Regions from separate parts of the Homo sapiens genome. Here region 2 is linked to region 1. The links come from fine-mapping of genetic effects on gene expression. Tissue or cell type: whole blood. Region 1 holds a variant in brackets; the other region holds the start of a gene. All regions are shown on one strand. Distances are from middle to middle.

Region 1 (8,260 bases):
AATTTAAAGCAAGCAATGGGTTAATATCTAGACCACACAACCCACTCCTCAAATCAATAAGGCACTAAACTAAAAGCAAGAAAATAGGGCTCCCTCTCCCTCTCCCTCTCCCCACGGTCTCCCTCTCCCTCTCTTTCCACGGTCTCCCTCTGATGTCGAGCCAAAGCTGGACGGTACTGCTGCCATCTCGGCTCACTGCAACCTCCCTTCCTGATTCTCCTGCCTCAGCCTGCCGAATGCCTGTGATTGCAGGCGCACGCCGCCATGCCTGACTGGTTTTCGTATTTTTTTGGTGGAGATGGGGTTTCGCTGTGTTGGCTAGGCTGGTCTCCAGCTCCTAACCGCGAGTGATCCACCAGCCTCGGCCTCCCGAGGTGCCGGGATTGCAGACGGAGTCTCCTTCACTCAGTGCTCAATGGTGCCCAGGCTGGAGTGCAGTGGAGTGATCTCGGCTCGCTACAACCTCCACCTCCCAGCAGCCTGCCTTGGCCTCCCAAAGTGCCGAGATTGCAGCCTCTGCCCGGCCGCCACCCCGTCTGGGAAGTGAGGAGCGTCTCTGCCCGGCCGCCCATCGTCTGGGATGTGAGGAGCCCCTCTGCCTGGCTGCCTAGTCTGGAAAGTGAGGAGGGTCTCTGCCCGGCCGCCATCCCATCTAGGAAGTGAGGAGCGCCTCTTCCCGGCCGCCATCCCATCTGGGAAGTGAGGAGCGTCTCTGCCCGGCCACCCATCGTCTGAGATGTGGGGAGCACCTCTGCCCTGCCGCCCCGTCCGGGATGTGAGGAGCGTCTCTGCCCGGCCGCCCCGTCTGAGAAGTGAGGAGACCCTCTGCCTGGCAACCGCCCCGTCTGAGAAGTGAGGAGCCCCTCCGCCCGGCAGCCGCCCGGTCTGAGAAGTGAGGAGCCCCTCCGCCCAGCAGCCACCCCGTCTGGGAAGTGAGGAGCGTCTCTGCCCGGCAGCCGCCCCGTCCGGGCGGGAGGTGGGGGGTCAGCCCCCCGCCCGGCCAGCCGCCCCGTCCGGGAGGTGAGGGGCGCCTCTGCCCCGCCGCCCCTACTGGGAAGTAAGGAGCCCCTCTGCCCGGCCACCACCCCGTCTGGGAGGTGTACCCAACAGCTCATTGAGAACGGGCCATGATGATAATGGCGGTTTTGTGGAATAGAAAGGGGGGAAAGGTGGGGAAAAGATTGAGAAATCGGATGGTTGCCGTGTCTGTGTAGAAAGAGGTAGACATGGGAGACTTTTCATTTTGTTCTGTACTAAGAAAAATTCTTCTGCCTTGGGATCCTGTAGATCTGTGACCTTACCCCCAACCCTGTGCTCTCTGAAACAGGTGCTGTATCCACTCAGGGTTGAATGGATTAAGGGCGGTGCAAGATGTGCTTTGTTAAACAGATGCTTGAAGGCAGCATGCTCTTTAAGAGTCATCACCACTCCCCAATCTCAAGTACCCAGGGACACAAACACTGCGGAAGGCCGCAGGGTCCTCTGCCTAGGAAAACCAGAGACCTTTGTTCACTTGTTTATCTGCTGACCTTCCCTCCACTATTGTCCTGTGACCCTGCCAAATCCCCCTCTGCGAGAAACACCCAAGAATGATCAATAAAAAAAAAAGAAAAAGAAAAAAAGAAAATAGGTAAAAAACATGATTAAGCACTCACTGATGAGTAGCTTCTGACTTTCATTCTGAGTTTGCTGAACCCAGATGCCATTCCTGGGAAGGAAAAAAATAAACATGGTAAGCAATCACAGAAGGGGAAATCTGAATACCAACAGTATAAATTAATCCTCTACCTTGAACGCAATCAGAAAAATGCACATTAAAATAATAATGAGATACCACTTTACACCCATCAGGTAGGCAAAAATTAGTCCGGTAATACCAAATATTAGCAAGATCCAAGATGAGAGGAAACAAATCCCTGCTGTACTCCTGGAGTGTGAGACATGCAGCCGTTTCCATTTTTGTAGTAAAGAATCTGGCAGAGCTTTGTGAAATTAAATATGCACATGCTCTATGACCCAGCAATTCTACTCTGTCGACCAAAAGAGTGGAACTCTGTAAAATATTTGAAGAGATTTATTCTGACTCAAAGATGACTGACCATGGCCTGTGACACAACCCTCAGGAAGTCCTGAGAACCTGTGCACAAAGTGGTTGGAGTGCAGCTTGGTTTTATACACTTTAGAGAAGAATGACACATCAATTAAATACATTTAAGACATACATTGGTTTGGTCTAGAAAGGTGGAACAACTCAAAGTGGGGGCTTCGAGGCTATAGGTGAATTTAAATGTTTTCTGGTTGACAATTGGTTAAGGTTGTCTAAAGAGCTGGGATAGATAGAAAGGGAATGTTCAGGTTAAGATAAAGATTGTGGAGACCAAAGCTCTTTTGAAGTCTCATAATGGCTGCCTTGGAGACAATAGGTGACAAATGTTTCCTATTCAGATCTCAGTTAGTCTCTTTAGGATTGGGAGGATCTGGAAGAAAAAGATGTATATATATATACACATATATATATTTATATATATGTATATGTATATGTATTTTTATATATATGTATTTATGTATAAATATATATATATATATATATTTTTTTTTTGAGATGGAGCCTCGCTCTGTCTCCCAAGCTGGAGTGCAATGGCGCGATCTCCACTCACTGCAGCCTCCAACTCTTGGGTTCAAGTGATTTTCCTGCCTCAGCCTCCCAAAGTGCTGGGATTACAAGCATGAGACACCGCCCCCAGCCCTGGCTATGTTAATAGAGATTCTTTATGGATGTAGATTTTCCCCACAAAGAACAGCTTTGCAGGGGCATTTTAAAATATGACAAAGAAACATGTTTTGGGGTAAAATATTTTGATTTTCTTCTTTGTCTCGTAATGTTATACCAGAGTCAGGTTGGAAAGTAAATCATGATATATAGGGTTAAATAAAACCTATCTGATGAGAATTTATGATTTGTAGGTCATGACTCCCCAGATCCCTTAGATAGGAATTTGGGCAAGATAAAAAAAATTAGAGTTTAGTCCTCAACTCCTTCATATACGTTACAGAGAAACTTGTGTCTAGATTCATAAGGGGTCACATGCAAGAATATTTATCACAGCATTATTTGTGGAAGCTCAATGTTAGAACTCAGTTTTGGGTGACTTTCATTAGCAAAGTAGAAAGGTTAAATATAAGCCTGGTGCAGTGGCTCACGCCTGTAATCCCAGCACTTTGGGAGGCTAAGGAGAGCAGATCACCTGAGGTCCGGAGTTCGAGACCAGCCTGGTCAACACGGTGAAACCCTGTCCCTACTAAAAATACAAAAATTAGCTGGGCATGGTGGCAGGCGCCTGTAGTCCCAGCTACTTGGGAGGCTGAGGCAAGAGAATCGCTAGAACCTGGGAGATGGAGGTTGCAGTGAGCTGAGATCACGCCATTGCACTCCAGCCTGGGCAACAGAGCGAGACTCCATCTCAAAAAAAAAGAAAGAAAGAAAGAAAAAGAAAGGTTAAATATGGGAGTTGCATAGTATAGAATGCTACTCAGCAGATATACAAAATATTCAAAAGACAACATGGAGAGATCTTAAAAATAGTAATGAGTGAAAAAACAAAACCATATTGTTTGCACAGTAACACTCATGTCAATTTAAAACTACACCAAGGAACGTGCGCGGGGTTCATGCCTGTAATCCCAGCACTTTGGGAGGCCGAGGCAGCAGATCACCTGAGGTCCGGAGTTTGAGACCAGCCTGGCCAACATGGTGAAACCCTATCTCTACTAAAAATACAAAATTACCTGGGCATGGTGGCAGGCACCTGTAATCCTAGCTACTTGGGAGGCTGAGGCAGGAGAATCGCTTGAACCTTGAAGGAAGAGGTTGCGGTGAGCCGAGATCACACCATTGCACTCCAGCCTGGACAACACAGCGAGACTGTCTCAAAAAAAATAAAAATAAAAATAAGATACATTAAAATAAATAAATAAATAAAAACTACACCAAGGAACTTCTGGCTATAGCAGTGTAAAGGGATCTGTGAATCTTCACCAAAAAAACTATGAAATTAAATAAAATTGCCCCAAACAATGATTTCAAGTCTCTGGAAACTGAGCAAGGCAGAAAACAAATTGAGGAGCTTTTATTCTTGAAAAACTGCTACAGCTTCAAGCAAAAGCAATGTGAGTTTGCAGCCTTCTTGCCTGAGGCTGCTCCCATCCAACTTCCTTGGTGGCTGGGAACTGTAGTTTTACCAGTATGGAACTGGCTGTGAAAATCAGCAATGTTTGCTGTCACAGTGGGTAGACTGAAATTGTAGGAGTTAGTTAGGTGGAGGCGGACAAAAGCCTACAATGTTCTCAGCTGAATGATATGAAGTTGGTAGGAAATAAACAGGCAAAAAACCCTCTAGCTGTACTAACTCAAAGTAGCACTCCTAGTTGTGTTCAGTGGTGGAAAAGCCAGAAATTTAGCTGGAAAATAGGAAACTACAAAAGGGCTGAGATAAGCTCTCCCACATCCCT[G/A]GCTCACTGGGAAACTATCATATGCATGGAGGATAGCTCAGAGAGCTCCCTGAAAAATAAAAGACAAGGAAGACTTGAACACTGCTGCACATTTTAATACACTTCTCATCCTTCAAACAGATATATTGGCAGAAGTGGATGCTATATGGGCTTGAGGTGTTGGAACACAATGCTTATTCTAATCATTGGCTGAACACTGTGCTATGTAAGCATAGGGGTGATACTGCTGCGGGATAATTAAGGAATCAGAGAGACCGAGGGATTGAGGAGGAGTTATTTAATTATTTAGGTTCACTGACCCAGTTGGATTAACATCCAAAGGACTGAGCCTGGAACAAAGAGTCAAGCTACCTTTTAAGCATTTCGTGGGGTGGGGGGAGATCTGTGCGGGGGGAAGCGTATTATAGAAGCGAGAGACAAAGACAGTTATTCAGTTAAGGCATGCATTACATTATTTCTTACTGTTCAAGGAACAACATGTTTTACGACTTGAGATTATCTGTCTAGTGACCTTGCAGCTGCACAGCTAGAGAAACAGAGTCTTCACAATGCCTGGTAAATGGAGAGATAAGGCTCACTAGCCACAGAGAGAAAAACAGGCAGTTAATTTTAAAGGACTCCAGCCCTTTCTGTTCCTCAAGGGGGAATTGGGTTTTCTTACATACAACTGAGTTTTTGCTTACACAGTCTTTAATTTTTTTTTTTTTTTTGAGACAGAGTCTCACTCTGTTGCCCAAGCTGGAGGGCAGTGGCGCCATCTTGGCTCACTGCAAGCCCCGCTTCCCAGGTTCACGCCATTCTCCTGCCTCAGCCTCCCGAGTAGCTGGGACTACAGGTGCCCGCCACCATGCCTGGCTAATTTTTTTGTATTTTTAGTAGAGATGGAGTTTCACCGTGTTAGCCAGGCTGGTCTCAAACTCCTGACCTTGTGATCCACCCACCTCAGCCTCCCAAAGTGCTGAGATTACAGGCATGAGCCACTGCGACCGGCCTACAGTCTTTAATTTCTTTTAATTCCTGTTCTAATCCTTGAGGGAACATTTTTTTTTTTTTGAGACGGAGTCTAACTCTGTCGCCCAGGCTGGAGTGCAATGGCTCGATCTTGGCTCACTGAAACCTCCACTTCCCAGGATCAAGCAATTCTCCTACCTCAGCTTCCCGAGTAGCTGAGAGTATAGCTGGGTGCCACCATGCCCGGCTAAATTTTGTATTTTTAGTAGAGATGGGGTATCGCCATGTTTGCCAGGATGGCCTCAAACTCCTGACCTCAGGTGATCCATCCACCTTAGCCTCCCAAAGTGCTGGGATTACAGACATGAGCCACTGCACCTGGCTGGAAAAATTTATTATTATTATTATTTGAGATAGGGGTCTCACTCTGTCACCCTGGCTGAAGTATAGTGGCATGATCTCGGTTCACTGCAACCTCTGCCTCCCAGTCGCAAGCAATCTTCCTACTTCAGCTCATGAGTAGCTGGGACCACAGGTACATGCCACCACTACCTGCTAAGTTTTTGTATTTTTAGTAGAGATGGGGTCTTGGTATGTTGCCCAGGCTGGTCTCAAACTCCTGAGCTCAAGCCGCTTTGGCCTCCCAAAAGTGCTGGGATTAAAGGTGAGCCACCATGCCTGACCCCTGTGGGAAAATTTTAAAAACAAGAATAAATGGCCGGGCATGGTGGCTCATGCCTGTAATCCCAGCACTTTCGGAGGCCGAGGTGGGAAGATCACCTGAGGTCAGGAGTTGAAGACCAGCCTGACCAACATGGAGAAACCCTGTCTCTACTAAAAATACAGAATTAGCCAGGCATAGTAGTGCATGCCTGTAATCCCAGCTACTCACTACTCAGGAGGCTGAGGCAGGAGAATCACTTGACCCCTGGAGGCAGAGGTTGCAGTGAGCCAAGATCATGCCATTGCACTCCAGCCTGGACAACAAAAGCAAAACTCCATCTCAAACAAAACAAAACAAAACAAAACAAAACAAAACAAAACAAACAAACAAACAAAAAAAACGAGAATAAAAACTGAGCAGACACATTAGCAGCTGCACACTGTGGAATGATAGACTCTACAGTTTAACTCCAGACAAATGACACACACACACACATCAGCATCACCAGCATCACCACCATTCAGAAAAATACAATAGAATCCAGACTCTACGGTTTAACTCCAAATTACACACACACACACACACACACACACACACACCCCATCAGCATCACCAGCATCACCACCTTTCGGAAAAATACAACAGAATCCAGAGTTATTACAGTCTATTATCTAAAATGACCAGTTTTTTAGAGGAGGAAGAGGATAAAATGATCAGTTTTCAAGAAAAAAATTATGACACATGCGAAGAAACCTAAAAAACAGTAACTCATATCCTGATTTTAAAAGTCAATGAAAACTAGCCGGGTGCAGTGGCTCACGCCTGTAATCCCAGCACTTTGAGAGGCCGAGGCGGGTGGATCACCTGAGGTCAGGTGTTTGAGACCAGCCTGGCCAACATGATGAAACCCTGTCACTACTAAAAATACAAAAATTAGTCAGGCATGGTGGTGGGCGCCTATAATCCTAGCTACTGGGGAGGCTGAGGCAGGAGAATTGCTTGAACCTGGGAGGCGGAGGTTGCAGTGAGCTGAGATCATTCCACTGCACTCCAGCCTGGGTGACAGAGCAACACTCTGTCTCCAAAAAAAAAAACAATAAAAAACAAAATAAAAACTGAGTCCAGGCACAGTAGCTCACACCTGTAATCCCAGCACTTTGGGAGGCCGAGGCTGGCAGATCACGAGCTCAGGAGATCAAGACCATCCTGGCTAACAAAAAAATTAGCCGGGCATTGTGGCGGGCGCCTGTAGTCCCAGCTACTTGGGAGGCTGAGGCAGGAGAATGGTGTGAACCTGGGAAGCGGGGCTTGCAGTGAGCCGAGATGGCACCACTGCACTCCAGCCTGGGTGATAGAGTGAGACTCTGTCTCAAAAAAAAAAAAAATAAATAAAAATAAAAACTGACTCTGAGTAGGCCCAGAAGTTGAATTTGGCAGACAAAGACTTTAAAGCACATATTATAAATATGTTCAAGGAATTAAATAAAAATGTTTAACAATGACTCAATAAATATGGAATCTCAACAGAGAAATAGAAGCTATAAAAAAAGAATCAAACAGAAATTCTAGAATTATAAAGTAAAATAACTGAAATGAAAATTTTACTAAATGAACCCAATAGCAGATTTAAGATAGCAGAGGAAAAATTTAATAAACTTGAAGATAGATCAATAATAATAATCTAGTCTGAATGACAGAGACAAAAATGATTGCAGGAAAGTGAACAGCTGGGTACAGTGGCTCACACCTGTAATCCCAGCACTTTGAGAGGCTGAGGCAGATGGATTGCTTGAGCCCAGGAGTTTAAGACCAGCCTGGGCAACATGATGAAACCCTATCTCAACAAAACATACAAAAGTAAGCTGGATATGGTGGTGTGCCCCTATAGTCCCAACTACTTGGGAGGCTGAGGCAGAAGAATCGCTTGAGCCTGGGTGGTCAAGGCTGCAGTGACCATGTTCATGTCACTGCACTCCAGCCTGGGTGACAAAGCAAGACTGTCTCAAAAAAAGAAACAAAAAAACCAAAAAACAAAAACAAAAAAACACCGAAAACAAAAAGACTCAGAGGCCAGTGGTACATCAAGCATGCCGATATACATGTAATACATGTCCAAAGGAGAGGAGACAAAGGGTC
Region 2 (8,000 bases), 30 kb after region 1:
CATAGGACTTTAACAGGTGCACTTAAATGCAGGTTTCTGATAACTTTGGAGATTGTGACATTAGAATAGAGGAAACAACTTTCAGAACTCTCATGGGGAGCTGAAATGTTCATAGATATCAAACAAAAGTTAACTGCATAAACTAAAGAAGACTAAAGCAATCTTTTTGCCTTTGCTTAAAACATTGCTGATCCTTTGTTTTATTTTTTAGAGTCAAGGCAACTTTTCTTTTCAGATATTTACAGCTTTTAATAATCGAGTAAAGTATACTCCTGTGAACAAAATTTGGAGTATATGCATCTCTCTACTTGATTTCTCCAGAATTTGGAAATTATTTGTGTGTATTCTTAATTTATGGCAATGCAGTTATTTGCATAAGGGTAATAAGAATCTGTTTTCTTTTGCAACAGGACACAATTGGAGAAATTGTTTATTTTATGAAGGGTTTGACTGGAATGGTGTGCTTTCCATTAAGGAATCAAACTTGACTTGTAAAGCCTATAAAAGCCACTTAGCGACCTGGGCTCATAACCTTGCCTACACAGTCCCTGTACAGGGTTTCTGACCTGTGGTAAGTAAAGAATGTCACCTTCTAAAAGGTCCAGGAGCCCCAAGTTATCTGGGGACCTCAAAAGGAGAGGAAGAATTTACCCAACTCAAAGGTATTTGAGGGCACAAACCCATGGCAGGGCTCAGCTTTAAAAAGTCTTATCCAAGATTCTTTCTATGGAACAGAGTTCCATCAAAGCCAATTTTAAAAGCCTACGTGAAAAATAATTATTCTTGCTGCACTTTATACAATCATCAGGCCAAGTATAATAAAGCACATTGGTCTTACCATAAAAATGGTCTTTCATAAAAATGGGAAACTGGAGAGAGAAAAATTATGTTTCAAGAACTATGATACACTTGTTATTAAATTCCAGTCTCATCAGTTGTCTTTAAGTTTGTTTCTGCAATTTAGGCTAACCCTGCTTAGTCCTGTGAACCAACCAGTGGCCTCTGACTGCTGCTCAGAAGAAACAAGAGGGATGGGTAATGTAAAAATCTGCATCAATATTCTAATTCTGGGCATGTACTGGAATCATCTAGCAACCTCATATCAGCGTGGTTCCAACAGTTCCTCAGTTCATGGAAAGCCTTCTAGTTTAGTTTACTTGGGATAATTTTACTTATTTTGCTTTATGGTTGTGGAATGTATAGCTGTTGTAATCTTTGTATAGGAATGGAGGACAAGCTTACTGAATGTTTCCTTAAACTGAACACTTATGAATCTTCCAGAGTATCACCTTTTGTCAGAACTCATGAGTTATGAATGGCCCTCAAGATACCAATGCTTTTTCTTCCCTTCCCTTCCCTTCCCTTCTTTTCTTTTCTTTCAGATGGAGTTTCATTCTTTCAGGCTGGAGTGCAATGGCACAGTCTTGGCTCACTGCAACCTCCGCCTCCCAGGTTCAAGAGATTCTCCTGCCTCAGCCTCCTGAGTAGCTAGGGTTACAGGCACCCGCCACCACATCTGGCTATTTTTTTTGTATTTTTTAGTAGAGACAGTGTTGCACCATGTTGGCCAGGCTGGTCTGAACTCCTGACCTCAGGTGATCCGCCTGCCTCAGCCTCCCAAAGTGTTGGGATTACAGGCATGAGCCATCCCGCCTGGCCCATACCAACACTTTCCAACTGAGCTCCTCTCTACCACGAATATGAGAGATTCTAAGAGTTAGGCAAAAATATCATCGCCCCTATTCATCCTGAAGAACTTACAGAAGATGGACCTTCGTCCCTCTGCAACCCTTAGGATTAGTGCTTCTCTTATAAAAGGAAGGGGGGAAATGTCAGAGGCACGTGAACCAGAGCAAGTCTATTTTGAACAAGAGCTGAGTAAAATGAGAATGAGACTTACTGGGCTGCATTCCCAGATGGTTAAAGCATTCTAAGTTACAGAATGAGATAGGAGGTTGCCATAAGATACAGGTCATGGCCGGGCATGGTGGCTCATGCCATGACAGTTTATAAATGCCATGACAATGACAGGAAGTTACCCTATATGGTCTAAAAAGGGGAGGCATGAATAATCCACCTCTTGTTTAGCATATCATCAAGAAACAACCATAAACATGGGCAACCAGCAGCCCTCGGGGCTGCTCTGTCTATGGAGTAGCCATTGTTTTATTCCTTTACTTTCCTAATAAACTTGCTTTCACTTTACTCTATGGACTCGCCCTGAATTCTTTTTTTCTTTTTTTTGAGGCGGAGTCTCGTTCTGTCACCCAGGCTGGAGTGCAGTGGTGCGATCTCGGCTCACTGCAACCTCCACCTCCCGGGTTCATGCCATTCTCCTGCCTCAGCCTCCCAAGTAGCTGGGACTACAGGCGCCCACCACCATGCCCGGCTAATTTTTTTGTATTTTTAATGGAGACGGGGTTTCACCATGTTAGCCAGGATGGTCTCAATCTCCTGACTTTGTGATCCCGCCTTGGCCTCCCAAAGTGCTAGGATTACAGGCATGAGCCGCCGCACTCAGCCTGAATTATTTCTAGTGTGAGATCCAAGAACCCTCTCTTGGGATCTGGATTCAGACCCCTTTCCTGTAACAAGATTAGGCACCAGGAGAAACTGACACACATGGATGATATAACAGATGCCTAAATGGATCCTATGGGGGAACTGGAGCTGGAACAGCCCTTTAGAGTTGTCGCAAAGTGAGGCAAAGAGGCTAGACTTTTATATCCCTCCATCAATCAGTGTTTGACATGGGCCCCATAGGAGGGCATGTAACCTTCGGTGAGGCATCTTTCTGACTTGAAGGGCATTGCCCAATGAGGGAGGTAGCTATGTGGTATCAGCAGCTGGTATTTCCTACATGTAGCGAATGGGCATATTGGCTCCCAAGGGGGAATCTGGGTGGAGCACTATAGTATCCATTAAACCTAGTAAAGAAATATTATTTCTTTACTAGTCACACAGATGTGCCCAGGACAGTGGTAGAGCCCACAGGGTTACATAAATCATAATGGTAGCCCTCAAGAACTTCATAAACTGTATATGGTATTTTAAAAAGTTGCATATTGTCTGTTTCCACCTACTAGAACATAAGCTCTAGGAGGGCAGAGACTATGTTTTGTTCACCACTGTTTCTCCAGTGTCTAGACGTAGATTCTTTGAATGCATTTAATTGGAGCCTTGAGATATGAAGAAGTAGGATGCGGTTACTTCATGCAGAGCAAGAGTGGCATGCACCCAGAGAAGGCCAGGTGGAGCTCAGCATGAGTGTGAAGGCCTCATGTCAAGCCATGTCAGGGGACACAAAGATGGAGTATTCTCTAACCTATGTGACACTCGGCATAAGGGAAGTACAAGCACTCAATATGTGAGTTTCATTCCCACAGTCTGTGGTCTTTAGCCCAGTCTTTCCAGATGCCTATTGAGTTCTTCAAGCATCCAAATGGTTTGGGGTAAGGCTTCAGGTTCTAAATGAGAGGCTTTGTGGGTTACCAGCTGGAGAGTCAGAAAATCTGGATTTGAATTCACTCAGCCATGAAATAATTGTGTGATCTTGGGCCGGGCACGGTGGCTCACGCTTGTAATCCCAGCACTTTGGGAGGCCAAGGAAGGTGAATCACTAGAGGTCAGGAGTTTGAGACCAGCCTGGCCAACATGGTGAAACCCCGTCTTTTTTTTTTTTTTTTTTTTTGAGACAAAGTCTCGCTCTGTTGCCAGGCTGGAGTGCAGTGGCACAATCTCGGCTCACTGCAACCTCCGCCTCCCTGGTTCAAGTGATTCCCCTGCCTCAGCCTCCCGAGTAGCTGGGACTACAGGCGTGCACCACCACGCTAATTTTTTTGTATTTTAGTAGAGATGGAGTTTCACCATGTTGGCCAGGATAGTCTTGATCTCCTGACCTCGTGATCTGCCTGCCTCGGCCTCCCGAGAAACCAAGTCTTTACTAAAAAATATCAAAATTAGCCAGGTGTGATGGACCTGTAGTCCCATCTACTTGGGAGGCTGAGGCAGGAGAATTGCTTGAACCTGGGAGGTGGAGGTTGCAGTAAGCTGAGATGGTGCCACTGCACTCCAGCCTGGGGGACAGAGCAAGACTCTCTCTCAGAAAAAAAAAAAAAAAAAGTTTGATCTTGGGGAGTTCTAAGGCCCACTAGCCTCATCTGTAGAATGGAAGCAATAGTACTACTTTGCAGAGCTGACTTCAGGACCAAGAGATCTAATGTCTATGAAGCGGGGTACTTCCTTCTATTTGTCAGGATGGGGGAGGCTAGTCCTGTGATGACTGGGAATGAAGGGTAAAAGAGACAGAGGTTGGGTAAACTCCAGGCTCTGTGTTCATAGCCTGCTCCCAGACATTCTCTTGTTATCTCTCTGTTTCCTAGCCTACACACGTGCACAGACACGTAGCTGCTGTTCAGGAACTGAGCTAATGGTTTTAAAGTCTGTTCCTTATCTTTGCTGGAGGCAGGCAGTAGCTGTGCAGTGACAGTGTGCCTATGCAGACAGAGGGAGCAGTGAATAGCAATAGGGTGTTTCCACCATGGTCTTCACTCAGGCCCCGGCTGAAATCATGGGCCACCTCCGGATACGCAGCCTCCTGGCCCGGCAGTGCCTGGCAGAGTTTCTGGGTGTGTTTGTACTCATGGTAGGTAGGATCACTGCGGGAAGGAAAGAAGGGGGTTGGGCAAAAGTTCCTGGCTCCTTCTGTTGTCCTTATCTCTTTCTCTTGGTGTCCCCCTTCCTCTCAACTCCCTATCACTTTTCGTTTTTATCCTCTCGTCTCTCCTAATCTCCTTTCCTCTCCTACTTCATCATTTTTATTCTTGTCATTTTTATTCTTTCTTTAATAACAAGTGTATCATAGTTCTTGAAACATAATTTTTCTCTCTTCAGTTTCCCATTTTTATGAAAGACCATTTTCATGGTAAGACCAATGTGCTTTATTATACTTGGCCTGATGATTGTATAAAGTGCAGCAAGAATAATTATTTTTCACATAGGCTTTTAAAATTGGCTTTGATGGAACTCTTCCATAGAAAGAATCTTAGATAAGACTTTTTAAAGCTGAGCCCTGCCATGGGTTTGTACCCTCAAATGCCTATGAGTTGGGTAAATTCTTTTCTTTTTTCCCACATTCTTTCCCTTTCTTCTTCCTCCACTTTCCCCATTTCTTTTCCCTTCCCTCCTTCTGCTTTTCTCCTTCCCTTGCTTGTCTTCTGTGCTCATTCATCTCCTTGGCTGCTCCCCTGGCCTTCCCAACCTTTCTCCCTGTTGGTCTCCTGGGCTCCCTGTTCCTCATCTCTCCTCTTCTCAGCAGCTCCTCACCCAAGGAGCTGTGGCCCAGGCTGTCACCAGTGGAGAAACCAAAGGCAACTTCTTCACCATGTTTCTGGCTGGCTCTCTGGCCGTTACGATAGCCATCTACGTGGGTGGTAACGTCTCAGGTGAGGAGGGTGGGGTCTGGTCATCAGAGCACGTGGGATGTGCATGCCAGTTTGTCTGTCTGGTGATGGTGGAAACGCAAATCCTTCTGTGACTCGTGGACATTATCCCCTTGAACAGTGTCCCAGACTGAAATAAGCCTTTGGCCCCACCAGCCCCTCCTCTTTCTGTATCTCTCCATCCTGCTTCCTCACACTAATGCTTGGCTCACCTAGACAGAAATCAATGGCAGGGCACGAAGGGCAGCTGCTATCCTCTTGTATCCCCCACCTGAAGTCCTCTGGGGGCTCATCTCCACTCAGGACCTCTCCTGTTTGTACCCCAGATACACACTGCATCGGTGTGCTTGGGTGGAGCCTTGAGACATAGTGTGTTGCTGTGGAAAAAGCAGACAGACCTAGGTTCCAACTTTGGATTCACAGTGTCTTCTTCTTTTTTTTTTTTTTTTTTCTTTTTTTTTGAGATGGAGTTTCACTCTGTTGCCCAGGCTGGAGAGCAGTGGTGTGATGTCTGTTCACTGCAACCTCTGCCCCTGGGTTCACGCGATTCTCCTGCCTCAGCATCCCGAATAGCTGATTTTACAGGCACCTGCTACCACGCCTGGCTAATATTTGTGTTTTTAGTGGAAACGGGGTTTCACCATGTTGGCCAGGCTGGTCTGGAATTCCTGACCTCAAGTGATCCACTGCCTCGGCCTCCCAAAGTGCTGGGATTACAGGCGTGAGCCACTGTGCCTGGCCCACAGTGTGACTTTGCTAAGTCACTTAACATCTGTAACATCTGGAGCCTCAATTTCCTAAGCTGTGTGATGAGAATTACACTATCTGCCTTAAGAGCTATAGGAAGGAGCAGTAGTGTTGTCTGGTGACAATGCCTGGCAGTGACACTTAATAGATGCTCTTTTTCTTTCCTTGATACTTGAAGGGGCCCACCTGAATCCAGCCTTCTCCCTGGCCATGTGCATCGTTGGACGCCTCCCCTGGGTCAAGCTCCCCATTTACATCTTGGTGCAGTTGCTGTCTGCTTTCTGTGCTTCGGGAGCCACCTATGTTCTCTACCATGGTGACAGAGGGAACAGAGGGAGCTGTGCCTTGAGAGCACCTGTGGGTGGGCAGGGGTGCCTCAGAATGGTTTTGGATGAATGAGCAAAGAGGGAAATCCTGGGTGTTCCCTTCCTCCACAGATGCCCTACAGAACTATACAGGTGGGAACCTGACAGTGACTGGCCCCAAGGAGACAGCCTCCATTTTTGCCACCTATCCTGCCCCCTATCTGTCCCTGAACAATGGCTTCCTGGATCAGGTAAGTGTGAGGGGGAGACCTGGGGACACTACTTTGGTCCTGTTCCTCGGCACCCCAGCCTATTGTTCAGTCTCTGGGTGGAGTGTGGGTTGGGTCTATCTTGGCACTCCCCACCATCCCCAACTGCCTGTGTTGCACAAAGCCAGATGACATGGAATATTTGGATGAGAGAGGGCAGATGGAGCACCTGGCAGCTGACAGGGAACCCTCTGCCTCTGTTGACTCCAAGGTTCTGGGCACTGGGATGCTGATTGTGGGGCTCTTGGCCATCCTGGACAGACGGAACAAGGGAGTCCCTGCGGGTCTGGAGCCTGTGGTGGTGGGGATGCTGATCCTGGCCCTCGGGTTATCCATGGGTGCCAACTGCGGGATTCCACTCAACCCTGCCCGGGACCTGGGCCCACGTCTCTTCACCTACGTGGCTGGCTGGGGTCCTGAAGTCTTCAGGTGGGAGACAGACTCTCCTGGTGCTGGCCTCCACTCACCTTCCTCTGCTAAGGGCTCTGTCCCTGGGTCCACAGCACTCTGCCTTTAAAATAGCTCTCTTGGCTTCTTAGGACAGTGTTCTTTCTCCAAGTCATATTCTCCCCCTTTCTCCCTTGCTTCCCTCCCAACTTTTCACTGAAACAGTAAGATTTAGAGGTTGTGTTCTTAGGCATGCCACATTACTTCCATGCACATTAGTGACTTCATCAGCAAAATTAATATATTCAGATAATTCCCTAAGGCAAGAGGCTGGACCAAGCTCTCCTGGGGTTCCCTCTTCTAAATACTATGCTTTGGTGACAAGGCAATCCTCTTCCTGGTGTCTACCACCCTGGGAACAACTTTAGGGCACTCTCTTGTTACTGCCCCCCGTCCTTGGAGAGGGGAAGGCTAAGGGAGTCACTCCTGATACCTTCCCACTGTCCTTCTTTTGCAGTGCTGGTAATGGCTGGTGGTGGGTGCCTGTGGTGGCCCCTCTGGTGGGGGCCACCGTTGGCACAGCCACTTACCAGCTGTTGGTGGCTCTGCACCACCCTGAGGGCCCAGAGCCAGCTCAGGATCTGGTGTCTGCTCAACACAAAGCCTCAGAGTTGGAAACTCCTGCCTCAGCTCAGATGCTGGAGTGTAAGCTATGATTAGGACAACCCTCACTTCACTCATGGACCCTGGAGCCAGCCACTGACCCCGCCTGGGAACAACAGTCATTCTTCCTCTTTGTTAATGTGCCAGAACCTGGGAGGCTTCTCTGTTTATCTGTTTGGCATCCCTTC

Evidence for each region. PIP is the estimated chance that this variant, and not a neighbour inherited with it, causes the effect.
Region 2: it holds the start of AQP10, and the variant in region 1 is fine-mapped to the expression of AQP10 in whole blood (TOPMed, PIP 0.98).

What each region holds. Positions count from the first base shown.
Region 1 is chr1:154,286,811-154,295,070 of GRCh38, forward strand. It overlaps LOC124904806 (small nucleolar RNA SNORD59), which reads left to right and starts at 1,650; the gene lies at 1,650-1,717. The variant G/A (reference allele first, on the strand shown) is at 4,510.
Region 2 is chr1:154,316,616-154,324,615 of GRCh38, forward strand. AQP10 (aquaporin 10) reads left to right here and starts at 4,478. Exons shown (of 6, transcript NM_080429.3): 1 at 4,478-4,645; 2 at 5,318-5,444; 3 at 6,367-6,504; 4 at 6,626-6,744; 5 at 6,974-7,191; 6 at 7,667-8,000. The coding sequence starts at 4,541. The coding sequence ends at 7,865. RefSeq lists a silencer at 4,257-4,448 and an enhancer at 7,871-7,950.